Linked DNA regions of Homo sapiens. The protein of the gene in region 1 purifies or fractionates together with the protein of each later gene. This does not show direct contact. Each region holds a gene or a part of one and is shown on either strand. Other genes may lie near its edges.

What was found.
Region 2: the proteins of KLC4 (region 1) and KIF5B purify together in Homo sapiens (affinity purification with mass spectrometry; 4 studies listed by BioGRID and IntAct, with this or other methods). This does not show direct contact.
Region 3: the proteins of KLC4 (region 1) and KIF5C purify together in Homo sapiens (affinity purification with mass spectrometry; 2 studies listed by BioGRID and IntAct, with this or other methods). This does not show direct contact.
Region 4: the proteins of KLC4 (region 1) and KIF5A fractionate together in Homo sapiens (co-fractionation; 2 studies listed by BioGRID). This does not show direct contact.

The regions. Positions count from the first base shown.
Region 1 is NC_000006.12:43,062,619-43,069,641, reverse strand, and holds part of KLC4 (kinesin light chain 4), read right to left. Parts: intron 6,726-7,023; coding exon 6,495-6,725; intron 4,023-6,494; coding exon 3,941-4,022; intron 3,337-3,940; coding exon 3,117-3,336; intron 2,647-3,116; coding exon 2,559-2,646; coding exon of another isoform or gene 2,490-2,558; exon of another isoform or gene 2,245-2,489; intron 1-2,244.
Region 2 is NC_000010.11:32,018,404-32,025,426, forward strand, and holds part of KIF5B (kinesin-1 heavy chain), read right to left. Parts: intron 4,634-7,023; coding exon 4,445-4,633; intron 3,855-4,444; coding exon 3,737-3,854; intron 2,885-3,736; coding exon 2,823-2,884; intron 2,729-2,822; coding exon 2,619-2,728; intron 1,997-2,618; exon of another isoform or gene 1,557-1,996; coding exon 1,455-1,556; exon of another isoform or gene 160-1,454; coding exon 99-159; exon of another isoform or gene 1-98. UniProt on the Homo sapiens protein: Microtubule-dependent motor required for normal distribution of mitochondria and lysosomes. Can induce formation of neurite-like membrane protrusions in non-neuronal cells in a ZFYVE27-dependent manner.
Region 3 is NC_000002.12:148,870,604-148,878,231, forward strand, and holds the start of KIF5C (kinesin heavy chain), read left to right. Parts: upstream 1-4,623; 5' UTR 4,624-5,014; coding exon 5,015-5,140; exon of another isoform or gene 5,141-5,592; intron 5,593-6,408; exon of another isoform or gene 6,409-6,739; intron 6,740-7,628. UniProt on the Homo sapiens protein: Microtubule-associated force-producing protein that may play a role in organelle transport. Has ATPase activity. Involved in synaptic transmission. Mediates dendritic trafficking of mRNAs.
Region 4 is NC_000012.12:57,567,034-57,574,056, reverse strand, and holds part of KIF5A (kinesin heavy chain isoform 5A), read right to left. Parts: intron 6,932-7,023; coding exon 6,844-6,931; intron 6,564-6,843; coding exon 6,439-6,563; intron 5,095-6,438; coding exon 4,990-5,094; intron 4,802-4,989; coding exon 4,653-4,801; intron 4,523-4,652; coding exon 4,374-4,522; intron 4,071-4,373; coding exon 3,895-4,070; intron 2,737-3,894; coding exon 2,668-2,736; intron 1,997-2,667; coding exon 1,790-1,996; intron 1,478-1,789; coding exon 1,331-1,477; intron 1-1,330. UniProt on the Homo sapiens protein: Microtubule-dependent motor required for slow axonal transport of neurofilament proteins (NFH, NFM and NFL). Can induce formation of neurite-like membrane protrusions in non-neuronal cells in a ZFYVE27-dependent manner.

The DNA.
Region 1 (7,023 bases):
GAGGTGGAGGTTGTAGTGAGCCAAGATCGTGCCATGTTGCACTCTAGCCTGGCAACAAGAGTGAAACTCTATCTCAACAAAAAATAAATAACTTTTCAGCTGGGTGTGGTGGCTCACACCTGTAATCCCAGCAGTTTGGAAGGCTGAGGTAGGTGGATCACTTGAGGTCAGGAGTTCAAGACCAGCCTGACCAACATGGTGAAAACCCATCTCTACTAAAAATACAAAAATTAGCCTGGCGTGGTAGCACGTACCTGTAATCCCAGCTACTTGGGAGGCTGAGGCAGGAGGATCACTTGAGCCTGGGAGGCAGAGATTACAGTGAACCCAGATTGTACCACTGCACTATAGGCTGGGTGACACTGCGAAACTCCATCTCAAAAAACAAAACAAAACAAAACAAAACAAACAAACTTTTCATTTTTCATTTTCTGTACATTGACAACTCTATCATTTGCCTTGGCGTGATATCTCTACTTAAGGTTGTTTCTCTCTTTCCTTTTATTTATATTTATTTATTTATTTATTTATTTTAAGATGAAGTCTCACCCCATCACCCAGGTTGAAGTGCAATGGTGCGATCTTGGCTCACTGCAACCTCAGCCTCCTGGGTTCAAGCAATTCTCCTGTCTCAGCCTCCCGAGTACCTGGGACTACAGGTGCATGCCACCACAACTGGCTAATTTTTGTATTATTAGTAGAGACAGGGTTTCACCTTGTTGGTCAGGCTGGTCTCAAACTCCTGACCTCAGGTGATCCGACCACCTCGGCCTCCCAAAGTGCTGAAATTACAGGAGTGAGCCACAGCGCTGGGCCGCTTCTTATTTTGTTGAGACAGAGTCTTGCTCTGTTGCCCAGGCTGGAGTGCAGTGGTGCGATCTCGGCTCGCTGCAACCACCAACCCCCGGATTCAAATGATTCTCCTGCCTCAGTCTCCAAATAGTTGGGATTACAGGCATATGCCACCATGCCTGGCTAATTTTATATTTTTTTTTTAGTAGAGACGGGGTTTTACCATGTTGGCCAGGATGGTCTCAAACTCCTGACCTCAGGTGATCGACCTGCCTTGGCCTCCCAAAGTGGTGGGATTACAGGCGTGAGCCACCAAGCCCAGTCTCTTCCTCTTATACACAAATAAATCTGGTCTGTCATTTATTTTCTTTTTTTTTGAGACAGAGTTTTGCTCTTGCTGCCCAGGCTGGAGTGTAGAGGCGCGATCTCACCTCACTGCAACCTCCACCTTCTGGTTTCGAGTGATTCTCCTGCCTCAGCCTCCTGAGTAGCTGGGATTACAAGTGCCCCCCACCACGCCCGGCTAATTTTTGTATTTTTAGTAGAGACGGGGTTTCACCATGTTGGCCAGGATGGTCTTGAACTCCTGACCTCGTGATTTGCCCACCTTGGCCTCCCAAAGTGCTGGGATTACAGGCATGAGCCACTGTGCCCGACCCTTGTGATTTCTTATAATACTGTACTTTAATAAAGTGTCCACCTATATTTTCTTTTTTTTTTTTTTTTTTTTTTTTTTTTGAGACGGAGTCTCGCTCTGTCGCCCAGGCTGGAGTGCAGTGGCGGGATCTCGGCTCACTGCAAGCTCCGCCTCCCGGGTTCACGCCATTCTCCTGCCTCAGCCTCCCAAGCAGCTGGGACTACAGGCGCCCGCCACTACGCCCGGCTAATTTTTTGTATTTTTAGTAGAGACGGGGTTTCACCGTTTTAGCCAGGATGGTCTCGATCTCCTGACCTCGTGATCCGCCCGCCTCGGCCTCCCAAAGTGCTGGGATTACAGGCGTGAGCCACCGCGCCCGGCCTGTCCACCTATATTTTCATTTTTTTTTTTTTTTTTTGAGACGGAGTCTCGCTCTGTCACCCTGGCTGGAGTGCAATGGCACGATCTCAGCTCACTGCAAGCTCCGCCTCCCGGGTTCACGCCATTCTCCTGCCTTAGCCTCCCGAGTAGCTAGGACTACAGGCGCCCGCCACCACGCCCGGCATTTTTTGTATTTTTTTTAGTAGAGATGGGGTTTCACCATGTTAGCCAGGATGGTCTCGATCTCCTGACCTCGTGATCCACCCTCCTCAGCCTCCCAAAGTGCTGGGATTAGTGCTGGGATTACACTCGTGAGCCACTGTGCCCAGGCCACTTTGCTATTTCTTTTAACAAAGTTGTACTCAATACAACTACTGTTGTTTTGTATTTTTACCTTATTATATTACATTGTATATATTGTCCTTACAAATTACTTTTCTTGTTTTTCTTTTATATTTATTAGAGTAGCATATTAAGTTTTGTAGAAATCATATGTGGATTTACCTATGACTTATCTATTAATTAAATTCAAGCAAAATATTTGTTATAAAAAGGAGTCACTGAGTCTCAGAGAATTGAGAATCATTAGGATCACTGGACAGTGCCTGGAAGAAAGGACTTCTTATGCCTCCTTCCTCAGCACCCTTAGTGAGTGGACTGAGGGCAGCAGATGGATGAGCTAAGAGAGGCCAAAACAGCAATGGTGGGGGGTGCGGGGCGTGGGGTGGGGAGGGCAAGGAATACTGACAGCAGGATGGTCAGGTCCCAAGGTGCTCTCCCGGATGCTAAGGGCATCATTCAGCAGGTGGGCAGCTTCCTTATACTTATTCTGGTCACTGGAAGAAGACAAAAGTGACAGGAGTTACCCTGAACCCGCAAGCCTTCTCCTTCCCTCCTTCCCTTTGGAAGGACTGAGTACATTTAAGGATTGGAGACCTCCATGAGGAGACAGGAAGCCTGGCGTGGACAGTAAGGGGGCTTCACTGACATACTCATACCAGAATGCAGGGCACTGCCATCCCAAGAGGAGGCCACAAGTTATAAGAAGCAAGGGGGCAGGGGGAAGAGAGGGAGAGAGCACTCCCCAGAAGAGAGATTAGAGGAACAAGGATCCCAAGGGATGAGCAAATGCTTAGGTATGGGAAAAGTGAGAGTTCTGGCACATAAAGAAGCACCCTGTTGGGGTGTATCTGGGAGGCCCAACAGGGAGGAGAGGTACCCTGTAAAGAGGAAAAATGAAAGCCAAAGGAGGACCAAGGTGGGAATGTGGGGGAAGATCTGGGCACTGGAGGAGGGAAGTCCTCACCGATACACCAAAGCAAGGATGTTGAGCATGGTGGCGACATCAGGGTGGCCACGGCCTGATGTGCGCTCCAGGTCCTCTAGTGCCTGCTTACAGAGTGGCACGGCCACCTCATAGCGACCTTGGGCTGCGTACTGGATCACCAGGTTGTGCAACGTCCGCAACCTTGCTGGGATCTCATATCCACCCTGCTGAGCTGCTGTAGCACCTTGACCACGGGACACTAAACCATCACAGAACATAAACAAAGGACTCTTCCTCTCCCCTTTGCTGTCTGCCCTTCCACTCCCCATTGCATGTCTTGTTCCATACTTGTGCCCACCCCAACCTGGACTCTCAATATTAGACCTGCCTCAAGTGCTATTCTTTTATCCACTCCCTTGACCTATGCCCATCACAACCTCAGTTGTTCACCCAGTAATTCATGCATTCAACAAACATTTATTTAATAAGTATGAACCAAGGGATGTTCCAGGAGTACAAAGGTAAGAAAGACCTGGTTCTTTCCCTTGGGGGGCTCATGGTCTCCCTGTCTCAGGTTTATTCTCCCACTAGACTGTGAACTCCTTACTGGTAAGACCTATGCCATTTCCATCTCAGTACTCCTAGTGCCTAGCACAGTACCTGGCACATATTCAGTGCTTAATACATGTTCGTTCAATGGGGAGGCTGAGGAAATCGAAGTACTAGCCCAGCCCCTGCCCTGTCTCCAGAGAAAGTGGAGAACCTATTTCTAGATGGTGACTGTCCTGTGTACAGGGTGGGCCACAGCTAGGGCCAGCCTCCTGCTGCCCCTTTTCACCCTCCCATTCCAGAGGCAGACTCACAGCCATTGCTGGGGTCCTCTTCCTCCTCATTAGGAAAGAGGTCATCCAGGGAATCCTTGGTGGCATCGCCTTCTTTCTCCTCCTGGAAGGGAAGAAGCAACATATAAGGGCCAAGATATCCCTACCTAGTAGCCTTCTCAGTGACCCCTCTAAGCCATGAAATCACAGACAGATGGGACCTAGGAGAAGACTGTTGTTCCTGTCTCTGCCCCTGGAAAGGCTAGCAAGTGGCCCAGCCAAGCTCAGGCCTCTTGTTTGTAACAGCCAGAGATGCTTTGGACAAAATCTCAAGACTTCCCCTCCTTCTCATACAGAAAGTTTCCTTCCTGGCCGGGTGTGGTGGCTAACGCCTGTAATCCCAGCACTTTGGGAGGCCGAGGTGGGCAGATCACCTGAGGTCAGGAGTTCAAGACCATCCTGACCAACGTGGAGAAACCCCATCTCTACTAGAAATACAAAATTAGCCGGGCGTGGTGGCGCATGCCTATAATCCCAGCTACTCATGAGGCTGAGGCAGGAGAATCGCTTGAACCTGGGAGGCAGAGGTTGCGGTGAGCCGAGATCATGCCATTGCACTCCAGCCTGGGCAACAAGAGCGAAACTCTGTCTCAAAACAAAAAAAAAAGAAAAAAAAAAGTTTCCTTTCTAACCACCCTCAATCTTGCCTTAACTCTTGTAATTATGGCCCTATGCTGATCTCTGTGTGTTTACGTTGATTGTATGTCTGTCCTGTCTCTCCTGAGGGAAGGGAGTGTGGCCGATCTTATTGACATGTACCCAGAAAGTGTCTAGCTCAGCCTGGTGCCCATCATCTGCACAGCTCATTCTGGACTTACTACGTAACCCTCCCTCACTGTCTAACCTATTCCGCACTAGGAAAATCTGCTTTTCCCCATCAGGAACTGCAGCCTCATCCAAACACCAACCCTCCTACCCAGCTTCACCAATGTGTCCTATGCAATTCATCTACTCACTTTCCCTGGGACAGACCAGCTTTTCCAGGCTGTAAGCCTTATCAATGACACCCTGCACTCCAGTCTAAAAAGCTGCTCCCTCTTCCTCATCATGAACTTTCAAAATCCATCTCAACTCCTAACCCACTCAAATGGGAAATCCAACCTATATCCTACCCATCCCTGTATCCTGCTTCCTCTATTTTTTTGTTTGTTTTTTGAGACAGAGTCTCTAGTCTGGCAACAGCCCAGGCTAGAATGCAGTGGCATAATCACAGCTCACTGCAGCTTCCACCTCCTGGGCTCAAGCGATCCTCCCACCTCAGCCTCCAGAGTAGCTGAGGCTATAGGTGCACACGACCACATCAGGCTAATTTTTTAATTTTTTGTGGAGACAGGGTCTCACTATGTTGCCCAGGCTCCCTGCTTCCTCTATGAATTCTTCTTAGACCATTCCAGCCCTCAGAGACATTTCTCTGTGAAATTCTTCCCACACTGACTGAACCACTCATCCAGCACTGAGCACTTGCTGCTTTGTATTTTGTCACATATATGTTCTCCTGGATAAGACTTGTTCCCTACAGATACATCTCAAGAAAACACACACTCTCAGCCAGGCGTGGTGGCTCACGCCTGTAATCCCAGCATTTTGGGAGGCCGAGGGCAGGCAGATCACTTGAGGCTAGGAGTTTGAGACCAGCCTGGTCAACATGGCAAAGCTCCATCTCTACTAAAAATACAAACATTAGCCGGGTGTGGTGGCAGACACCTGTAATCCCAGCTACTTGGGTGGCTGAGGCCCAAGAATTGTTTGAAAGCCAGAGGCGGAGGCTGCAGTGAGCTGAGATGGCATCACTGCATTCTGTTGAGCGAGGGTTAAATTTCACACATTTTGGACCGGGCATGGTAGCTCACACCTGTAATCCCAGCACTTTGGGAGGCCCAGGCGGGCAGACCACCTGAGGTCAGGAGTTCAAAACCAGCCTGGCCAACATGGTGAAACCCCGTCTCTAGTAAAAATACAAAAATTAGCCAGGCGTGGTGGCAGGTGCCTGCAATCCTAGCTACTCAAGAGGCTGAGGCAGGAGAATTGCTTGAACCCGGGAGGCGGAGGTTGCTGTGACCTGAGATTGCACCATTGCACTCCAGCCTAGGCAACAAGTGTGAAACTCCGTCTCAAAAAAAAAAAAAAAATTCACACATTTTGAAAGCAAATTTTAGGAGGGTCATGCTCAACTGGGTTATGCTTTCCCTAATTGTACCACGTAGAATTCTGGATTGGAATTGTCCAGGTGCTTATCTATCTCCCTCACAAGCTTGTAATTGTGAGAGCAGGAACTCTGTGTGCCCCATTCACCAGTGCAGTGCACAATGCCTGGTACACAGTAGGCATCTCATTAAATGTTGACTGAATTACCTGAATATTGTTTTTCCCCTTGCTGTCACCTGGAGTTGGTGTCAGGGCTGAAAAAGGAATTCTTTCAGGTGAGAGCAGGTTGGGTAGAGCTGATGGACCCTGAGGATGATGGGGCAATTGCCCCCATGTCTGTGGTAACTCCCGGCTGCCCACCCCTCAGCCAGTCTCGCCTGTGCACACTCACCGAGGTATGTCCATCCTCATCATACTGCCGCAGCTGCCCCAGGAACTCCAGGTGCTTCTTTTCCTCCTCCAGCTGAGCCACAGCCTGTTCACTGCGCTGTAGCCGCTGCTGGGTGCCAGCCAGCTCATCCCGCAGCCACTGGTTCTCCTGGCATAGCCGCCGCACCTGAGCCCGCAGCTTCTGTTTCTCCGACTCCACTGTGCTCAGGTGGCTGGCTAGAGCCAGCATCACCTAGGTGGGCACATCCCCTGAGCTCCAGATTCTGGGTGGGAGTATTCAGGAACAGGTGGAAGGGGAGCCTACTGGGACGTGGCAAGACTGGCAGGGGCACAGAGGAGCCAGAAGGTGGGGGTGTAGCAGTGGTGCTACCTTCAAAACATACCCTGAATCCAATTTCCCACTACCTCCACTGCTGTCACCCTGGACCAAGCCACTATCAATTCCTACCCAAATTATTACAATAACTTCCTCACTGGCCTCGTTTCTGCCCTTGTTCCCCTATTGTCTATTTGTAACCCAACAACCTGAT
Region 2 (7,023 bases), on another chromosome or scaffold:
CGATATTTTTGGAGCTCAGACTTTAAATTTAGAATAATCATGGTAGAAAAAACCCACAAAATATTTCCCAATCCTGTTTATTTTCATGTTTTTCTTACCACTGTCTCTTCCAAACCCTTCAAGTCTTGTCTTGCTTGTTCTCGTCTATCTTGCATAACCCTAACAGTAGAAGAACAAACATATATTTTCAAATTTTATTCTGTATATTGTACTTAGCATGAGAGTTGAATAAAATATTTTGTGTCTGAAAGGATAAATTCTTAAATTTAAATAAATACAAGATGCCTATTTTAAACAATTTACCTGTGCTGTCTTTCAAAAAAAAAATTTTTTTTTTTTTGACACAGAGTTTCTGTCCCAAACACTGCTCACTGCAACCTCAACCTCCTGGGCTCAAGTGATCCTCCTCACCTCGTCTCCCAAATAGCTGGGACTACAGGCATGTACAATCAGCCCTGTCTAAAAAAATTTTTGTAGAGACGGGGTCTCACTATATTGCCTAGGCTGATTCTCAAACACTGGGCTCAACTGATTCTCCTGCCCTGGCCTCCCAAAGTGCTGAGATTATGGGTGTGAGCCACTGCAGCTTTGCAATTTCAAAAAATTTTCATATGCCTTCTAAACAACAGTCTATTGTTATACATTCCATATATAGCAATGGAAGAGATGAAATAAAATGTGGCAGAATTCAAAGAATAAGGAATAGTTCTATAATTTATATTTTAAAATATGCCACATGTATTATACTGCTATTTATCCAAAATGATACTGATTAATTATAGATTATAAACTGTCAAAGACTAAAATATTTTACATTACAAGTATTCTAAACAAAATTACAGCTGCAAGTTAGCAGAATCTTCATATAATCCACTCTGAACTGGTCCTGATGTTCTAACTATCCTAACAATATCAGTTGATTTGCAAATTGTCTCACAAACTCAAGGTATGTGAAAAATTATAATCATGCACTTTCTACCTGCTAAGATTCTAGAAAACTGAGTTTTGAGAAAATGAGAAAAGGTAAACCATGAAAACCTCTGTTCAAAATGGCAAGGCTAAACACCACAATGCTCTTTTATGCAAGAGAAAATTTAACAAAAACTCAGTTTTTGTGTTAGATCTTAAAATCTTCGAAGTTACTTAATATATTGTTTTAGGTTCATTTTTATGCTGGATCCTGAAGTAATATGGAGATAAAGAAACAGCAAGCAGATTAATAAAGAGAAACCTTAATCTTAACCACAATGAAATATAAGACCTTGCTTTCACTCAAATGCAAGTATATATTCCAAGTATTTAGATATAAATCAAACCAACTCAGTGGATTTAAGAAAAAATCCTTTAGCCCATACAAAGTAAAATATGTATCCACTGGCTATATCCAAAGGTAATGCCTATAATCCTCTAATTTAGCTTTTATTTTTAAACTTTAATTAAAAACAATTACTCACGTAAGTTCATGTAGTTTTCTGCTCTTTTCCTGATCTGTGGCTTTCAACTTCTCATGTTCTACTCTTAGACGTTCCTGCTCTAACATCATTTTCTGGTTTTGGCTGACGAAAGAAAAAAATAATTAACACAGTATCAATATCACAGTTTTCTCAATGTCATCATTAAAATTTCCAAACTTTTAAATTCTATAATCTCATCAAGGACTTTTCTGTTATCCTATACCCTATGGAGGAAAAGAGGAAAGGGACCTGGCTACTTGTGGACATACAAAATTTTTCGTATTTTGGTTTGAAATCATGATTCTGTTCTCCTCTGTCTTTCATCTTCCTGAATCCTTATGCCTACTTCCATCAGGTATTCATAGTAAGACCTACGCCCCAAACCTCATCATTATTTTGTTATGTTATTCTCTTCTTGGTTCCTACTCAAATTGTTGCAAACTCTGACTTCCATAAACTCTATGTATGTGCACATGGTTATGGAGGCAGGGAAATTGCTTCTAGATAAACTAAGATGACAACTTAAAAAAAAAAAAACCTTTGAAAATCCATAGAATTTCCAGAAAAGTTTTTCCCAGTTAAGAATTTTGAGTCAGGGTCTCGCTCTGTCACCCAGGCTGTAGTACAATCATAGCTCACTTCAGCCTCAGATTCCAATACTCAAGCAATCCTCGTGCCACAGCCTCCTGGGTCACTGGGACTACAGGCATGTGCCACCAAGCTCAGCTAATTTAAAAAATTATTTTTTGTAGAGATGGAGTCTCACTATGTTGCCCAGCTGGTCTTGAACTCCTGACTTCTAGTGATCCTCCCACCCCAGCCTCCCAAAGCACTGGGGTCACAGGCCATCAGCCACTGCACCCAGCCAAGAATTTTTTTAAAAAAGGAAACTAAATAAAGGATTTGGAGAAGACTGTGGTATGCAATAATAGACTTAGGTTGGGGATTTTTTTCTTTTACTGAATAATTTAGATCAAAAGACCTAAAAAAAAGCCTCAAAAATTTCACCTGGAATTTAGAAGTTTTACTCATAAATGAGAAAATTCTTTATTTTCCAAGATAAAAATGTAATTTTGATGAAAACTGCAGGTTTCTAATAAGAATATATACCATGACCATCAGTAACCGATTCTTTCCTCCTAACTAGAGAAGTATAATACTTACTCTTGAAGATCAGTAATAAGTTTTGCTTTTGCTTCTACTTCATCTCTCAAACTACTGATCTGTTTTTGATGAGTTTCTCTATGGCTCTGGATCTGCTGTTCAACAGCTTGCTAAAATTTTGGGGGGGAAAAGGATGTTAAAGTCAGACTAATCAAAATTAATACTGATTAATTAAAGCTGTTAGAAATGTGACATCAAACTTGCCTTAACTTCATTTGCAGTCTGAACCTTATTTAAGTGCTCCTTTTCCATTTCATGGACTTTCTCTGTTTGAATAGAGAGAAAATAGAAGAGTGAAATAAGCCTTTAAGGTTCCTCATATAAACCAAGGAGCAAATGGATTTTACAATAAGCATTTTCCTTAGCAATATTCAACTTCAAATTACCCAAATGTCACCTGCTCTCCAAGTTCAATGACATGTAGACTAGTATACAAGTTACATCCATTGTGTTGGTATTATGTATTCCTTTATGGTTTGTTTGGTTTTTTTTTTTTTGGCCTAATCCAGAACAGATTAGTTAAGGGAATGGTAAAGAAATGAGATAACTCCTAAGTCCCCTATGTTAAGACACACACACACACACACCCCGCTTCGTAACTGTGGGAAATCCCCAGATTGGCTATTTCCATATTCAAACAAAATCTTAAAAATATATATATATATGTTTTGACAGGCACAGTGGCTCATGCCTGTAATCCCAGCACTTTGGGAGGCCAAGGCAGGCAGATCACGAGGTCAGGAGATCAAGACCATCCTGCGTAACACGGTGAAGCCCTGTCTCTACAAAAAAGGTAAAAAATTAGCCAGGCGTGGGGGCATGTGCCTGTGGTCCTAGCTACTAGGGAGGCTGCAGCAGGAGAATCACTGGAACCCAGGAGGTGGAGGTTGCAGTGAGTCAAGATAGTGCCACTGCACTCCAGCCTGGGCAACAGAGTGAAGACGCCGTCTCAAAACAACAACAAAAAAATGTTTCAAAGCAACATTAATATGTATGATTTGTTTACCATTCGAAATCAGCCATATTCCTACTATTTCTTTCAGTGTGAATATTAAGTTTACTACAATTATACTAAAATAAGAACACAGATGTAACTCATAAACAGTTGGAAGCTATACCTTGTGCTCGAAGCTGGACTAGTTCTTCACTGAGGGCATCGACAGATTCCTCCAACTGTCTTTTCTTTTGTTCCACATTTTGAAGGTATTCAGTCAATGACTTGATTTTGGCTTCATGCTTTTGGAAAAAATATACTGATATGAAGTGGAAAACATATGCATACACTTTAAGAATATTTGACAGTAAACATTTCATTATCTATATATGATAAATTTGGGAATATTTAAAACTAAAATATTCAGGAGCCAATTTTGAAATGTTAAAGAATGTAATCAATTAATTCATTGGTGATCATAACTTGCAAACTAAGGCACTGAAGACTCAAATATGAAATACTAATTTTACAGATACCACCATCTAACGTTACCATCTTCCCTCCTTGTGAAATTCTGATAGTGGTGAATGGCCCCATTCATTCAGTTGCCAAGCCAGGAAACTGGTTCCCTGCAGTTTTGCCCACCCTGGAATTCTGAAGTCTTTAACAAGTTACCACCAGTCACATCATTCTGGTAAATTTCTATACATAACCCATATTTATGTTAGGCAAATATAACTCAGTTAAATCATTCAAATTTACTGCAGCTAGACTAGGAAAAAAACAACTAAATTTCACCTATAGACACACATTTTTCTGAAAACTTGTATAATAAATAAAATTTCTATGTGGCTGTTTCAAAAAAATGAATAAACTTTGTTCTATAACATACTTGAGAGATACGAAGCTGACATGCTGCTAACTCCTTTTCATTTTCTTCCATTTTTTTGTTGCTCTCAGTTTGTGTGCTTTCTAACTGCTTGCAACGTTTCACCATGGTTTTTACTTCTGACTTCATTTTGCTAATGTAGAGTCTTGCAACAGTGAACTCTTCATCTATCATGCCAGTTCCCTCAGGCTGCTGTAAGGAAAAAGTAAAATAAAAAATTAAAGCCAAAAATGTTCAATGTGTGTTTTCCCAATTAGGCTATAAAATCTTTTTATAAAATATATTTTAGTATTACTCAATATTCATACAAAGTCTGGATCTTATTTTTTTCTTTTATTACTGTTTTCAACGAAAGGTAAATAAATACAGCTTACTTTTTGCCTTCCTTTTTTTAAAAACTGAGAATAATGTTAATACATGCCAACAAGAAAAATAAATAAATGTAAACCTAAAGAAAACACAAAAATACAACCAAACTAATAAATTCTGCCTCTTTCAATTTTTTCACTTCCTCTTTACAGGACCTCTTCAGTAAATTCATTGTTAATCATGTGCACGTTCAGCTTAAAATTTAACAAGAGGATGTTTAGGTGGCAGGGAAAGGATGAACTTTAAGCTCAACCAGAAGGAATTGTGGTCACTGTATATTCCTTCACCTTCAGGAAGAAATAAAACTGTGCAGATGACATGATTAAGTTTACATGTAAAGTCAAAAGACCCTGAATAGCTAGCACAACACTAAGGACAAACAAAGTCACAGGACTTGACACTATGCAACTTACTGTAAAGCTATAATAATCAAAACAGTACAGTGCTGGCAAAGAACAGATAAACAGGTTAACAGAACAGAATAAAGAGCCCAGGAATAAAACCACAAAATACAGTCAACTGATCTCTGACAAAGGTGCAAAGGCAATTTAATGGAGGGAGGACAGTCTCTTCAACTGGACATCCAGATGTGAAACAATGAATCCTGGTACACACCTTACCCCTTTCAGAAAAATTAACTCCAAATGGATCATAGATCTAAATGTAAATGCAAAACTGAAAAAAAAACTTTTAACACAGGAGAAAATCTAGGTGATATTGGGTTTGGTGACAAGTTTTTAAATACAATACCAAAAACACAATCTATTAATGTAAAACTTGGTAAGTTGGACCTCATTAAAATTAAAAATTTTTAGTCTCAAAAAATGACGTTGAGAGTAAAAAAAAAAAACAAAAAAAAAAAAACAAGACACAGAGAAATAATGCAAAACACTATCTGATAAAAGACTTATATCCAAAACATATGAAGAACTCTTTTTTTTTTTTTTTTTTTTTTTTTTGAGACGGAGTCTCGCTCTGTCGCCCAGGCTGGAGTGCAGTGGCGGGATCTCGGCTCACTGCAAGCTCCGCCTCCCGGGTTCACGCCATTCTCCTGCCTCAGCCTCCCAAGTAGCTGGGACTACAGGCGCCCGCCACTACGCCCGGCTAATTTTTTGTATTTTTAGTAGAGACGGGGTTTCACCGTTTTAGCCAGGATGGTCTTGATCTCCTGACCTCGTGATCCGCCCGCCTCGGCCTCCCAAAGTGCTGGGATTACAGGCGTGAGCCACCGCGCCCGGCCGAAGAACTCTTAAAACTCAACAATAGGAGGCCAGGTACGGTGGCTCACGCCTGTAATCCCAGCAATTTGGGAGGCTGACGCGGGCAGATCACCTGAGGTCAGGAGTTCAAGACCAGCCTGGCCAATATGGCGAAACCCAGTTGCTACTAAAAATACAAAAAATTAGCCAGGTGTGGTAGTGGGAGCCTGTAGTCCCAGCTACTCGGGAGGCTGAGGCAGAAGAATTGCTTGAACCCAGGAAGAGGAGCTTGCAGTGAGCCGAGATCATGCCACTGCACTCCAACCTAGGCGACAGAGCGAGACTCCATCTCAAAATAAAACAAAACAAAACTCAACAACAGGGCCAGGCGCAGTGGCTCATGCCTGTAGTACCAGCACTTTGGGAGGCTGAGGCAGGCGGACCACCTGTAGTCAGGAGTTCGAAACCAGCCTGGACAATATGGTGAAATCCCATCTCTACTAAAAATATAAAAATTAACCAGGCGTGGTGGTACGCGCCTGTGTTCCCAGCTATTTGGCAGGCTGAGGCAGAAGAATCACTTGAACCCAGGAGGCGGAGGTTATGGTGGGCCAAAATCACGCCACTGCACTCCAGCCTGGGTGACAGAGCGAGACTCCGTCTCAAAGAAAAAGAAAACCTCAACAATAAGAAAAAACACAACTGCAAATTAAAATGACAATAAAATAACACCATACATTAGTAAAATCCCAAGAAACTGACAAGAGCAAACACTGGCAATGATGTGGAACAGCAGACTCTCATTCATGGCTGATAGGAATGCAAAATGTTTCCACCACTTTGGAAGACCATTTGGGAGTTCCTTACAAAGCTAACATAGTCATAACGTACAACCTAGCACTTCTAGGTATTTTTACTCAACTGAACTGAAAATTTATGTCCAAAGAATAACTTACACATGAATTATTATTATTTTTTTTGGAGACAGAGTCTCACTCTGTCACCTAGGAAGGA
Region 3 (7,628 bases), on another chromosome or scaffold:
ACCTTTGCCTCCCAAGTTCAAGCGATTCTCCTGCCTCAGCCTCCCGAGTAGCTGGGATTATAGGCATGCACCACCACACCCGGCTGAAGTATTTTTAGTAAAGATGGGGTTTCACCATGTTGGCCAGGCTGGTCTGGAACTCCTGACCTCAAGTGATCCGCCCACTTTGGCCTTTCAAAATGCTTGGATTACAGGTGTGAGCCACTGCACCCTGCCCAAGAGCTCTAATTTTTAAATAGCTTATTTACAAAGCACTCTATGCTTCAGGTCAAACATTTGTCAAGCATCTGCAATATGCCAAGAACTATACAGATTTCATTACCTAATTTTAAAATTAAATTAAGACCCAGAGAGGTAATAGGATCTATATAAGAATGCTCGAAATAGTGAAAATAGCCCTGTATCTGGAGGTTTAGCTCTGCCACTATCATGATTTCTACTGTACAATATACCCATGCAAGTCACTTTAAATTATTTCATAGGTTAAAGGCCTTTTTACTAAAAAAGAAAGAAAAAATTTTAAATTAAGTCCTTACTCGTGCCAGGACCTGTGCTAAAGTGTGTGTGTGTGTGTGTGTGTGTGTGTGTATATATATAACGTTTCTCATTTAAATCTCCTGAAACCTCTGTAAGATAGGTTCTGTTATTATCCCCATTTTACAGATGGAAACATGAGCTTAGAAATGCTAAGTCACTAGCTAGAAATAATGCAGCTAGTAGGTGACAATTATTTGAATAGAGTCTGACATCAGAGACTGTACTCTTTAAAGCACACACACAGTATTTGGATACTCTTGTATCACAGATAATATAGGGAATTTCAACATGTAAAACAATTCAATTAGTTCACAATTTTAGTCAATTTGGTACATATCATTCACATGCTTATAAACAGAAAATAATAGGAAAAATCAGTCAACAAACACCTGGGGAGAGAGGGAAAAGGCAACTTCATTTCTCTTTTGATAGGATTCTAAATACCACAAATAGGAGAAAACAGCCAAATCAAAAGTTAGGAAATCTGTAACTTCAACCTTCATAAAGCGTAAAGTGTGTCTTTAAGAAGCAAAGATTTAGGGAAGTGCCATTTGGGCACCTCTCACTCTCAAAAATGAGAGAGCTGTTCTCCTTTTTCTTTTTTTTTTTTTTTGCGACAGAGTCTCATTCTGTCACCTAGGCTGGAGTGCAGTGGTGCGATCTTGGCTCACTGCAACCTCCGCCTCCCGGGTTCAAGTGATTCTCCTGACTCAGCCTCCTGAGTAGCTGGGATTACAGGCGCATGCCACCATGCCCGGCTAATTTTTGCATTTTTAGTACAGACAGGGTTTCACCATTCTGATCAGGCTGGTCTCAAACTTCTGACCTTGTGACCCACCTGCCTCGGCCTCCCAAAGTGCTGGGATTACAGGTGTGAGACACCGAGCCCGGCCCTGTTCTCCTTTTTCTTTCTTTTGCCTATTAAACCTCTGCTCTTAAAACGCACCTCCCCCTCTGGCCCTGCCCCCCCCCAAAAAAAGAGGCAAAGATTTAAAAAGTTAACAGGAAAAGACTACTTTATCACATTTAGCTTGAATGCTAAGTAGTAACATTTACTAAGGTCCACAGTTTACTGCTTACTACACAGTTTACCACTTTACTACACAATAACCCACCCTGGACTGATGGCTTCTTCAGGAACACTGAGAGAATGTAAAATACAGGAATCCTGATAATTCTGCATTCTTCGAGCAATCATTATAATCAAGCTGATGTTTTTATCCGTCATCATTGTGTATAGTTCCTTTGTTGTAATTGCTCCTTTCTCTTTGGTCTCACATTTTTTCACTCTTTTCACCATTGCTCTTTTGGGTTTTGTCTTTGGAATCCAATACATTCTCCAAAGAAACTTTAGCCAATGTGCCACCATCCTCTCTTCCTGTTTCCTGCCTTTTTTGTTGTAGTTGCTGTGCTTCCTTCTGCCTGTCCTTTTCCTCAAGTTATTTCCGGACTTCAGCTTCTTTATATCTTAGTTTAAGGCTCTCAGAGAGTCTTTCAGCTTCTTCAATGGCTTTTTTGATGTTTGCAGTTCCAAGTATTGAATGGACGTAATCCTCTTAGTGCTTATTTTCTCTGGTTTAACTTCTGTCTTCTTATTGAGGTCTTTTAGTGAAGAACTCAGGTAGAGTTCTTTAGGAACTAAAGCCACAGCAGGCATGGTGAATTATCTTTACTTTTCCACGTTCACGATAGATGCTATATTTCCTTAAAAGTAGTTTTTTCCGTGGCGTCGGGTGCGCTTCACTAACACCAGCCTTCTTGCCAAAGGCCCATCTCCCAAGAACTCGAGGGAGAATTAGCCTTGGCTACCAAGATGGAATCCAGCCCAGCTCATCATCCTTTGCCCATTTTTAAAATTTTTTTTTGGTTGTGAGTTATAGGTATTCTTTATATATTCTGTATATTAACTCCTTATCAGATGTATTATTTGCAAATTTTTTCCCATTTCATGAGCTGCCTTCTCACTCTGTTCATAGCATCCTTTGATGTGCAAAAGTTTTAATTTTGATGTAGTTAAATTTATCTGTTTTTTCTTCTGTTACCTATCTTTTTTTTTTTTTTCCCTGAGATGGAGACTCACTCTGTCGCCCAGGTTGGAGTGCAGAGGCACAATCCTGGCTCACTGCAATCTCTGCCTCCTGGGTTCAAGCGATTCTTCTGCCTCAGTCGCCAGATTAGCTGGAATTACAGGCACGTGCCACCATGCCTGGCTAATTTTTGTATTCTTAGTAGAGACCAGGTTTCACCAGGTTGGTCAGGCTGGTCTCAAACTCCTGACCTCAAGTGATCCACCCATCTCAGCCTCCCAAAGTGCTGGGATTAACATGCGTGAGCCACGGCGCCCGGCCTGTTACCTATCTTTTGGTGTCCCTTTTCAATTGTTTTGAATCCTACTTAGCCCATTTCCTATATTAAGCCTTCTCAGACAACACTGAGAACTTCATCCTCTGTACTCCCACTAGTTTCTAAGCTGCCTGAGGGCGATGACTTATTTTGCAACCTCCCTTCAAATGAGAGGCCCTACGTTATCTCCCTTGAAAAGGGTTCACTTAATAAATCTAAGTTTACAGAGTGACAGCAAATGCCATTTGCTCAGTTAATAGCTGATGAATGAACAGATGAACGAATGAATGATGACTGAACACAGTGACACACAGATACGTCTCTGTCCACTTGAGATAATCCTGACCTCCTCAGATAAACCAGTGTATGCAAGGTTCTGGGCATCTTCTGGTGGGCTCAGGGAAACTGAGAATTGGATTGTCCTCTCTAGTATATTATGAAGTTGATCATTTAAGATGATGGGTCTCTGAGCCAGAGCCTGAGAATTACTTAATTTAAAAACAGATGAGAAGGTGGCACCTGGGTCTTTTTAATCTACTTCCACTGCACATGAGGAGATGAAATAGAACTGGTACTACTTACAAGGGTTTATAAAAGTTGATTTTAGTAGGTCTGTCCTCTCAGCTAGGCAGAGAACACTTGTATTTTCAGGTATTACCCGAATTTAAGCAACAGATGTGTTCCTAAAATTAACTAACTTATTTGTTTTATGATCATTTGTTCAGCACCCAATAACATCTAACTTTCAAGAGCTTATCCTATATACATGTCAGGCACCGTGCTAGGTGCTTTAAAAGCATCTGTCTTTTAATTCCCCCAGAAATCACAAGATGATATTATTCCAATGACAGAGATGAGGAAACTGAGTCTTAAGGAAATTAAGACTTCTTAATTTCCTCCGCTCTTAATTTCCTCCGCCTGTTGGTCATACATCTAATAAGTGGCTGAGGTGGGATTCACACTCATGCATTGCTTCTTCCTAGGGTAGAATCCTTATTCAGTATGCTGCCCACTATGTGCTAGATGCTACAGACACAAAGATATCAAGCAGATATCACCACCCAAGTGCAGTGCTAGAGACAGGCACAGCAGATTAGGGGAACATCAAGGAGGGCCACCAACTCTTTATAGGTGTTTAGTGAGCTGGGAAAGTCTGAGGAAGGAGGGTTGAGCTAGGTCTTAGAGGAAAAGGAAGTTCTGGAAAAATAGAGTGGACACTCAGTTGTTCTGCCAGCCCGGCACCATGTCTGGGAATACCATCCCTCTTCTTTTGGGAACCTTCCCACCAAGGGATTCCTCCATAATCTTACAAAATCCCTGATTCTGGTTGATTGGTTTAGCACTAGATGCCAACCTAAACCAAGGCCAATCAAACCCAAACTCTGAACAGACATCCATCCTTATCTAGTGGTAGAAGTTGAAGGATGAAACCCAGGGGCTATTGGGAGCTGTTTCCCAAGTGATTTTCTTTTGGGATCAGGATGATCCAGACCCAGTTATCTAGAGATTTTAACCGGAAATATTGGATATGACCTCCATCCGGTTCCGGCTTGGGCAGCCAGACCGGACTTGCAGGCTCTTGGAGGTCGCATCCTGTCCTTCCCCCGGCAGGTAGAGTGACTACAAGTCCCGGGATGCGCAGCGCTCGGAGTCGGGCGGGGGCCGGGCGGACCTCTACGGTGACGTCACCGTCCCGGGGCGGGCCAGGGGAGGGCGGGGCGGAGGGGCGGGTCTCAAGGCGGCAGAGCGCGCTGGTGCTGATGCAGGATGGCTGAGCGCGCAGGAGCCCGGGAGGTCTGAGCCGGGCGAGGCTCGCTCCCTGCGCATCGCCTCCTCCGCCCGCCGCGTGGTCGCGGGCAGGTGGGCCGGGGGGCGCTGGGCAGGGGCGGGGCAGGGCCAGGGCAGGCCGGTCTGCAGCCGGAGGGGCCGGAGCGGAGAAGCTGCCCACCTTCCCGGGCTCGGAGCGGCCGGGGCTGCTCAGCCGGCCGGGCTCGCGATGACCTGCTGAGAAGCGTCGTCGGAGGCTGCAGGAGGCGGCCTAGCTGTGGGCGGTGCAGCTCGCGGCCTCCTCCCTCGTCGTTCCCGGCCCCGGCCCCCCACCCATCCCCGTGCCCCCTCCCTACCGCCGGCCGAGATGGCGGATCCAGCCGAATGCAGCATCAAAGTGATGTGCCGGTTCCGGCCCCTCAACGAAGCGGAGATCCTCCGCGGGGACAAATTCATCCCCAAATTTAAAGGCGATGAGACCGTGGTGATCGGGGTAAGTGGCTGGGGCGTCTGCCTTCCCTGCTGCTCCGCGCCGCAGCTGGGCGCCCCGACGCCCCAGACGCAGCGGAGGTGTTTAGGCCGCCCCCTCGGACATTCCCGCGGGGCTGGCCTCTCGGGTGGACCTGACCAGAGACCCCTCGCCCCGCGCACTATGGTTCCCTCCCGGGCGGGTGGAGAGGCGGCCGGGAGCGGCGGGCCGGGCGGGGGTGGCGGGGGTGGGGATGGGGGGCGAAGACGGGCTCGGCGCCGCCATTGTTCGCCGGGTGGGGGCCCGGGTGGGCCCATTGTTCCCCACGCTCGCCTCGCCGCGTGGGTAGTGTGTTCGGGTGACCCTCAAGCCGGGTGCCCAGGCCCCCTTTAAAGTGTGAGCTCTGCAACCCGCAAATGCTTCTGGGCATCAATCAATTCGATTTACCAAACGCCTTGCCTCTTCTTCTCACGACCCTAGCAAAAAAGAAAGAAAAAGGGGTACAGGAAAATTTCTAGTCGCGTCTCGGAGCTCCCGCGGCAGTGTAGACGCGGCTCCCCGCGGTGTTACACCTGGCTCCGCGCGCGGAAGGCGGAGGGTTGGGGGAGTACTGGTGGCCTCGGTGTCCCCTGGAGGCCTGGTGTGTCTCCCGCTTCCTCTCACGCCTGGCTGCCCTGGATGTGGAGTCCCGGCTTGATCCCTCCCCTCTGGGATGACCTCCCTCCCATGTCTGCAGACCCTCTGATGCGCCTCACGCTGGGTGGAGAGGAGGCTGTGTCCACATCTGTGGGGCGAGGGGGCTCAGAGCGCAGTAGCCCCCTGTGCCAAGAGCAGAAGTTACTTCGTGCGGCTCGGACCCCCCTCCCTCTCTATCTCCCTTCCCCACCTTTTCTCCCCCACCCCCTCCCCCTACTTAGCTCCCTCTCTGCAGCTGGGGCTGCTGGTAGGGGGAGGGAACACCAATGGATTGTAGTTCTTAAAGGAATCTGTCAGATGAAACAAACCAGCTCGGTCCCCCGCCCCTTCCCCGCCCGCTGTCCGTAGCGTGTGTGGCTGATGGTGCCCCCTTTGTATGCGAGCCGCGTGGGGAGGGACCGAGTTAATGGGAGCCTCCCGGTCCCCGCTGACACGTTCCTGGCAGCCTGCTCCAGGCTGCTGATGCAGCCTTCCCGTCCCCAGCATTGATTAAGTGATGTCATCCTGATCACTGAGCATGCTCCGACTAACCCCCTCCTCCCCTTCCTCCAGTGGCTGGTGTATTTAGGTCAAGTGATTGACAGGTGACAGTTTACCGAGGGTATTGCAGGAGTCCGCCTGGCCTTTCTCAAGCGCCAGAGGCCGACGTTTTCCAGCCCGGGCGGTCCCCAGCATCTTTGCCAAGGTTGTCTGCCGCAGTCGCAGCGAAGGGCCCTGGGGACCAGCAGGTGCCAGCTGTACCGTAAGGCGGGAGCTCTCCACGCTAGAGGAGCCTGGGCAAGGCTCTGGCCTCAGGGCTTTAACCTGTACCTGGCTTTAAAAGGCTGCTCCCTTTGACGACCTCTTCTCACCTCCCCATTTTCACAGTCATCAGGAACGTCTGACCTCCAAACGCTGTGTGGATGGGCGATCATTCTGCGAGCTGACCTATGAGGGCAGGAAAGCGGGGTTTTCTCTCTGTTTAGTGTTAAACTTGCAGAGAAGATATAAGCTACGATTATTGATGAGGAAGGAAATTCTGCAGTTAATGGCAGATAAGTGTTAGTGACATATACATAGGCAGTACCTGGGGCAGTTAGTGACTTATTTGGTTTACAGCTCTCAGCCAGTATCTGCCTACAGCCTGATCTGCTACTTTCTGAGCCAGGCTGTGGTTTAGATAGAGTGGGAGTTACTGGGGACATCTAGTCCCTGCCCCTTGGCTTGTAACAATTTTTAAACAAATAATTGTGCAGTACTGGAACATGTTCTGGCAACCCTATTTTTTTCCCAGAGGTTTTGAAGAGCCTGAAGAAGTTTTTCTTCTCCCCTCCTCCCTCCTCCCCCATCCCCTTTCCCCTCTCCCCTCTCCCTTCTCCTCCTCTTCTTCTTCCAGAACCAATGAAATGAAGTAATAAATCATCTTCCTTGACCTGTATGCAAGGCAGAGCTCCTTAATTTTAGAATTATCCTTCTTTAATATGACATTGCTATGAGTATATATTTCCTTATCTAAATAAACATATATTAGTGGCTAAACAAATTAAAACCAAGTCACCATATTAAATAAGAAGTTTAAATAAAAATCATAGATGTGAATATACACATTGCTTTTCAACCGTAAAGTAAGTTTTGCTCATCCTACTATAATCCTTTAATACAACAGTTTTCAGTTTTTCTAAGGTAAACTTTTTATTGAAATGAAGCATTCATATAGAAAACTGTTATCATAAGTATACAGTTGGATGACTTTTCATAAAGTAAATGCTCCCTGTAACCACCTCACAGACTAAGAAACAGACATTTTGGGACCCTAGAAATCCCCCTTGTGGCCCTT
Region 4 (7,023 bases), on another chromosome or scaffold:
AGGCTGGAGTGCAGTGCCGCATCTCTGCTCACTGCAAGCTCCGCCTCCCAGGTTCACGCCATTCTCCTGCCTCAGCCTCCTGAGTAGCTGGGACTACAGGCGCCCGCCACCATGCCTGGCTAATTTTTTGTATTTTTTTAGTAGAGACAGGGTTTCACTGTGTTAGCCAGGATGGTCTCAATCTCCTGACCTCGCCTCGGCCTCCCAAATTTTTTTTTTTTTTTTTTTGAGACGGAGTTTCACTCTTGTTGCCCAGGCTGGAGTGCAATGGTGCAATCTCGGCTCACTGCAACCTCCGCCTCCAGGTTCAAGCGATTCCCCTGCCTCAGCCACGTGAGTAGCTGGGATTACAGGCATGAGCCACCACACCCGGCTAATTTTATATTTTTAGTAGACACGGAGTTTCTCCATGTTGAACAGGCTGGTCTCGAACTCCTGACCTCAGGTGATCCACCCGCCTCGTCCTCCCAAAGTGCTGGGATTACAGGCGTGAGCCACCATGTACAGCCTCTTTTTTTTTTTTTTTAAGACAAGGTCTGGCTCTGTCACCCAGGCTGGATTGCAGTAGCTCAATCATGTCTCACTGCAGCCTCAACCTCCCATACTCAGGTGATTCTCCCACCTCAGCCTGTCAAGTAGCTGGTACTATAGGTGTGTGCCACCACCCCCAGCTAATCGTTTGTATTTTTTGTAGAGATAGGGTTTCACTATGTCACCCAGGCTGGTCGTGAACTCCTGGGCTCAAGCGATCCGCCTGTCTCAGCCTCCCAAAATGTTGGGATTACAGGCATGAACCACCATGCCTGGCCTCCATTGCTTCTTTATTCAGCACCCGTTAGAATTTAGTTTTGTTTTGTTTTGTTTTTAAGGCAGAGTCTCACTCTATAACCCAGGCTAGAGTGCAGTGGTGTGATCTCAGTTCACTGCAACCTCTACCTCCCAGGTTGAAGCGATTCTCCTGCCTCAGTCTCCTGAGTAGCTGGAATTACAGGTGCACATCACCACGCCTGGCTAATTTTTGTATTTTTAGTAGAGACAGGGTTTCGCCATGTTGGCGAGGTCAGGTCTCGAACTCCTGACCTCAAGTGATCCGCCTGCCTCGGCCTCCCAAAGTGCTGGGATTACAGCGGTGAGCCACTGCGCCCAACCTAGAATGTATCTTTTCAATTGGGTCTATACAAGCCTCTACCTGTCTTCCTGGGTCTAGTTCAAAGGCATGTTTCCTGGCTCTCTGGCTGCCTTTCTCAGTATCTGTGAAGGCCTGGATGGCTCATCTTGCGTCTTCCACTAGTGCCCAGCCTGAACAAGGCTGCTGTCTCTCACCACTCACCAGCTTAATCTCCCCGTTGCCCACAATGACACTGAACTCGCTCAGATCCTTCATCAGCCCGTTCAGCACCTCAGCAATTCGTTTTCGCTGGTGTCCACTGACCTCCTGTAGCCGCTGCAACTCAGACTCCAGGGACAGCATGGTGGCCTGGGGACAGCCCCTCAGGTCATTCCTGTTGCCATCCTCCTGCTCCCTTGCCCAGCCCAGGCAGAGGCCTCTCCCTTCATGCAAGACCCTGAGGGCTGCTATGAAGAGAACACAGGCCCTGCAGAAGAGTCTGAAAGACAGAGGGACTGTGAGGGGAAAGTGCAGTGACAGGGTTGGGGAGGGACTCACAATGCACTGAACAGCAGTGCAGAGGTGCAGCCACCATACAGCCCTGGAAGGATGCAGAGGTCCCCTCGACATGGGAGATGTTCTGTGGTCAGGGAGCTGTTGGACCATTGGCACACCACTTACCACCTTCTGAGACAGCTCATCCACCAGAAGCTGGTTCTGCTGGCTCTTCTCCTCCACCTCCTGGGACTTCTGGTCATAGTTCACAGCCAGCTCCTCCAGGGCCTGCAGCACTTCCTTCACCTCATCCTTAGCGGCATCGTTCTCTGATTGCAGGTGGCTCAGCTCCCGCTGGACCTTCTCGTTGTCTCCTCGGGTGGACACCAGCAGCTTCAAGGGAGAGGAGTGGCATGTGGGAAAGATCACTGCCAGTGACCATTTCTATGGCCTTGGGTCTGGGAAGCTGAGCCCCCACCCTACCCAAAATAAAGAGTTAAGAGGAAGTGGGCTTTAGGTTTCATAGAAATAGGGCAACAGAATGAAGAATGAAGAAGCCCCCAGACTTTAAAATTTGTGCTTTAAGAAAAGCCCCAGCCGGGCGCAGTGGCTCACGCCTGTAATCCCAGCACTTTGGGAGGCCTAGGTGGGCACATTGCCTGAGCTCAGGAGTTCGAGACCAGCCTGGGTAACATGGCAAAACTCCATCTCTACAAAAATTAGCCATGTGTGGTGGTGCACTTGTAGTCCCAGCTACTTAGGGGGCTGAGGCAGGAGGACTGCTTGACCCTGGAAGATCGAGGCTGCAGTGAGCTGAGATTGCCCCACTGCATTCCAGCCTAGGTAACAAATTGAGACTCCATCTCTAAAAAAAAAAAAGAAAAGAAAAAAGGAAAAGAAAAGAAAAGCCCCAGTGAGGTTCCCAGACTTCTGCTGTTTAGGGGAGTGATTAATCCCCAAGCAGAAAGCGCCTTCTTCCATCTGATTTTAAAAAGGTCTATTCCATGCCTTCCAGTGATGAACAGAACCCCTTTCCTCTCATGTCCTGCCCTCCCTCCTATTACCTCTTCCTGGTCCAGCATTTGCTGCTTGAGCTTCTCTATGAGTTGGCTTTGTTGGTTGATTTCATCATCCTGTTGGAGGCAACAGGGAAAGACAGGTGAAGGGAAGCTACTCCTTCCAGTTTAGACGTAAGAAGTTTGGGGGTAGAGGCAGGATCCTGATAAAAATCCAGATAGTATAAGCTTTGAGTTAGAAACCCCATATCCTACAGGAAGATCGGTTGAAGCCAGGAGTTCAAGGCCAACCTGGGCAACATAGTGAGACCCTGTCTCTACAAAAAATTTAAAATATTAGCTAGCCTGGTGGTGCATGCCTTTAATCCCAGCGCATTGAAAGGCCAAGGCGGGAGGATCGCTTGAGGCCAGGAGTTTGAGACCAGCCTGGGCAACAAAGTGAGACTCCAACTCTACCAAAAAAAAAAAAAAAAAAAAATTAGCTGGGCGTGGTGGTGTGCACCTGTAGTCCCAGCTCTTTCAGAGGCTGAGGTTGGGGGGGATCCCTCGAGCCCAGGAGTTTGAGGTTGCAGTGAGCTATTACTGCACCACTGCACTTCAGCCCGAGTAACAAAGCAAGACTCTTTCTCTCAAAGCAAAATAATAATAATAAATGAAAATAAAAATACTTTTATGAAGAATTATTAATGAAGTAGGAAATTGTGCATAATATAATGCTGAATGAAAAAAATCAGATGTATAATTACATATACAGGCCGGGCACGGTGGCTCACGCCTGTAATCCAAGCACTTCAGGGGGCCGAGGCGGGCGGATCGCCAGAGGTCAGCCTAGCCAACATGGTGAAACCCCGTTTCTACCAAAAATACAAAAATTAGCCAGGCGTGGTGGCATGCGCCTGTAATCCCAGCTACTCTGGAGGCTGAGGCAGGAGAATCACTTGAACCCGAGAGGCAGAGGTTGCAGTGAACCACAATCGTGCCTCTGCACTCTAGCCTGGGCGACACAGCAAGACCCTGTCTCAAAAAAAAAAATTACTTATACAGTATAACTCAATTGCATGGTATATGCACAGAGAAAAGCAAAATGTTGAGTGTTATCTCTGAATAGTGGATGATTTTAATTTTCTTACATACATTTATATTGATGTTTCCACATTTCAAGCATAAGCATTTATCCCTTTTAAAACCAGAAAGAGGCAATATAAGCGATTTTCTTTGATCGTCTACCTCTCATCCCACCTGGCGTGCCTCAGTGCCCTGCCTGGCCGCCCTCACCTTGTCGTCAAGCTGCTTATAGAGACGGCGGATCTCCTCCTCGTATTTCTGCCGCTCCTCGGGCGCGATGCGCACCACGATGGATGAGTTGTCATTCACAGGGGTCTCCTCACAGAGCTCGGCTCCCAGGGCTGCCTCCTCCCCAGCCAGGCGCTCTGTCTCAGGCACATTCTCTCCTGCAAAGGGGCAAGACGAGGTGAGAGATGGAAGAAGAAGAAGCTGCATCCACGAGTTCTTCCTTCTCACTCACCATGCCCCTTGAACTCTCTTGCCAGGTGGACCCTCTACCTTTTGGGAGTATGGGAGGTAGGTAGTCAGGCCCCTCCCTTCCCCCATGACTGCTCTACTGCACCTGTCCAGAAACACAGCCCCTCTTCTAGGAGATTGGCCTGGCCAGAAACACCACCCAAACAGAGTTGGCTCCCAAACATCCTCCTCCTCTTCCCACTGCCCCTCACTCCCACCTATCCCTCTCTAACCATTGCGCCACCGGCTCAGCTCAGCCTCCAGCTTCGCAATCGTCTCCTTCTGGGCCTTTGTCTTCTCCTTCTCCTTCTCATATTTCTTCTTCCACTGCTCAGCAGTCAACTCCAAATTTACTGAGGCAGTGTTCTTAATGGTCTTTGCCCTGGGTGAGGAGAAGAGGAACAAAGAAATGAGAGCAACATGAGACTTGGGTGACCCTGAGGAGAGAGAGCCGCAGAGGCTGGGATGGGAAGCTGGGTACCAGGGATCCCTCTGGGGACCCTGCCACTGACCGCTGCCCAAACATCAGGGTGGACTTGGTCTCTGCATCATTATAACTGGATGGTGAGCAACAGATGAACATAGTCGTCCGGCAGTTTCCCCCGAGAGAGTCCTGGAGAATCCTTGTCATTTTGCTGTCACGATATGGAACATAGCTTTTCTGGGGGAGGAAGGAGACCAGGAATCAGAAATAAACAAATAAAATTCAACAGGGAATCAGAAAGGATAGTGGTGCCACCCCGGGATCAGACAACCCATGAATTGGGGCATGATCATATGGTGGCATTAGCAGGTGGGGGAGGAGATGGGGTGTGGCTTGAGGGGTGAGGGGACCTAAGGATCACTCACAGTGCCCTCAGCCAGTGCGGAGATCACATTGCCCAGAGCTGACAGTGACTTGTTGATATTCTTTGCCTCGTCCAGCACGGCTCCCTCTGCTCCAGTCTTGCTGACCTACCAGGGCAGTAAGAGATGAGTGTGTATGAGCAGCTGCACATGGAGAGGGCTGTCACCACCTCGTTCCAGGGCTCAGTCCACGGAGGAAGGAAGGAACAGGGAAGAAGATGGAGTAACAGAGATGCTTGGCTGGGATTGGGGAAGGCCCTTCCTCTGTTCCCCTAAACTGTCTTGTCAAACACCACATTGCCCCTAACCCCTGCCACATATTACATGATTCCTTTTTTTTTTTTTGAGATGGAGTTTCACTCTTGTTGCGCAGGCTGGAGTGCAATGGTGCGATCTCAGCTCACCACAACCTCCGCCTCCCAGGTTCAAGCGGTTATCCTGCCTCAGCCTCCTGAGCAGCTGGGATTACAGGCATGTGCCACCACGCCCAGCTAATTTTGCATTTTTTGTAGAGATGGGGTTTCTCTATGTTGGCCAGGCTGGTCTCGAACTCCCGACCTCAGGTGATCCACCCACCTCGGCCTCGCAAAGTGCTGGGATTACAGGTGTGAGCCACCGTGCCCAGCCATATGATTCCATTTATATGAAATGTTCAGGATAGGCAAATCCATAGAGACAGAAAGTAGATTAGAAGTTGACAGGGGATGGGGTTAGGGGACAATGGAGAGTGACTGTGAATAGAAGATGACAGTGCTCTAGAATTGGATAGCGTAATGGTTGCACAACCTTGGGAACATACTACAAACAACTGAATTGCACTTTAAAATGGTGAACTTTATGGTATGTGAATTATATCCCAATGCAAATCATTTTTTAGTTAAAAAAGAGTCGGCCGGGCACAGTGGCTCATGCCTGTAGTCCCAGCACTTTGGGAGGCCGAGGCAGGTGGATCCCGAGGTCAGGAGTTCGAGACCAGCCTGGCCAACATGGTGAAACCCCGTCTCTACTAAAAATACAAAAATTAGCTGGGCTTGGTGGCGGGAGCCTGTAATCCCAGCTACTAGGGAGGCTGAGGCAGGAAAATCACTTGAACCTGGGAGGCAGGGGTTGCAGTGAGCTGAGAGCGTGCCACTGCACTCCAACCTGGGTGACAGAGCAAGAATCCGTCTCAAAAAAAAAAAAAGAGCCAAGGACCAGCCTGGCCAACACAGTGAAATCCCCTCTCTACTAAAAATACAAAAAATTAGCCAGGCGTGGTGGTGGGCACCTGTAATCCCAGCTACTTGGAAGGTTTAGGCAGGAGAATCACTTAAACCCAGGAGGCGGAGGTTGCAGTGAACAGAGATCGTGCCACTGCAAACCAGCCCGGGCGACAGAGTGAGACTCTGTCTCAAAAAAAAAAAAAAAAAGAGCCAAGGCTTCCACCCACCCCATATCCACAGGACCCCCTACCTTCTCACTCCCTGCCAGGTCCACCAGATACAGCTTCCCACTGAGCTTCTGCTCCGTTTCCATGTTCTCCTGCTTGATGTTGATGAGGAAGATGCTGTGGCTCCGAGAGCTGTGTTCATTCATGTCTGCAGGAGCAAGGGAGAAACAGGACCTGCACCACCCTGCAGAACTGAGGTCCTCAGCCCCCGGCTTCCACTGACCCCAGCCCCGCCCACCCAGAGAGAAGGTGCCCACCAGGACTAGCCCTGCTGCCACATCTCCCAGGCAGCAGGGTCCCACAGACAAGGGGTCCTCCTCCTCTGGGGGGTACAGTTTCCTTGCTCACTTTTGAGTCCCTCCACCCCAGAGGACACAGAACACAAGTGGATCCTCAGACTCGAGAGATCCCCTTGTATCCTCACTCACTGGTGACAGCCACATGACGATTTGATTTCCCTTCATCAATCACATCCAGAATCTCCTCCGGGCTGGACACAAAGCGTTCAGTACAACCCTGTGGGGGACAAATGGACAGTGACCCATAAGCTTTGTTTTTTAAGTTTGTATTTATTTATTTATTTTTATTATTATTATTTTCTTTTGAGA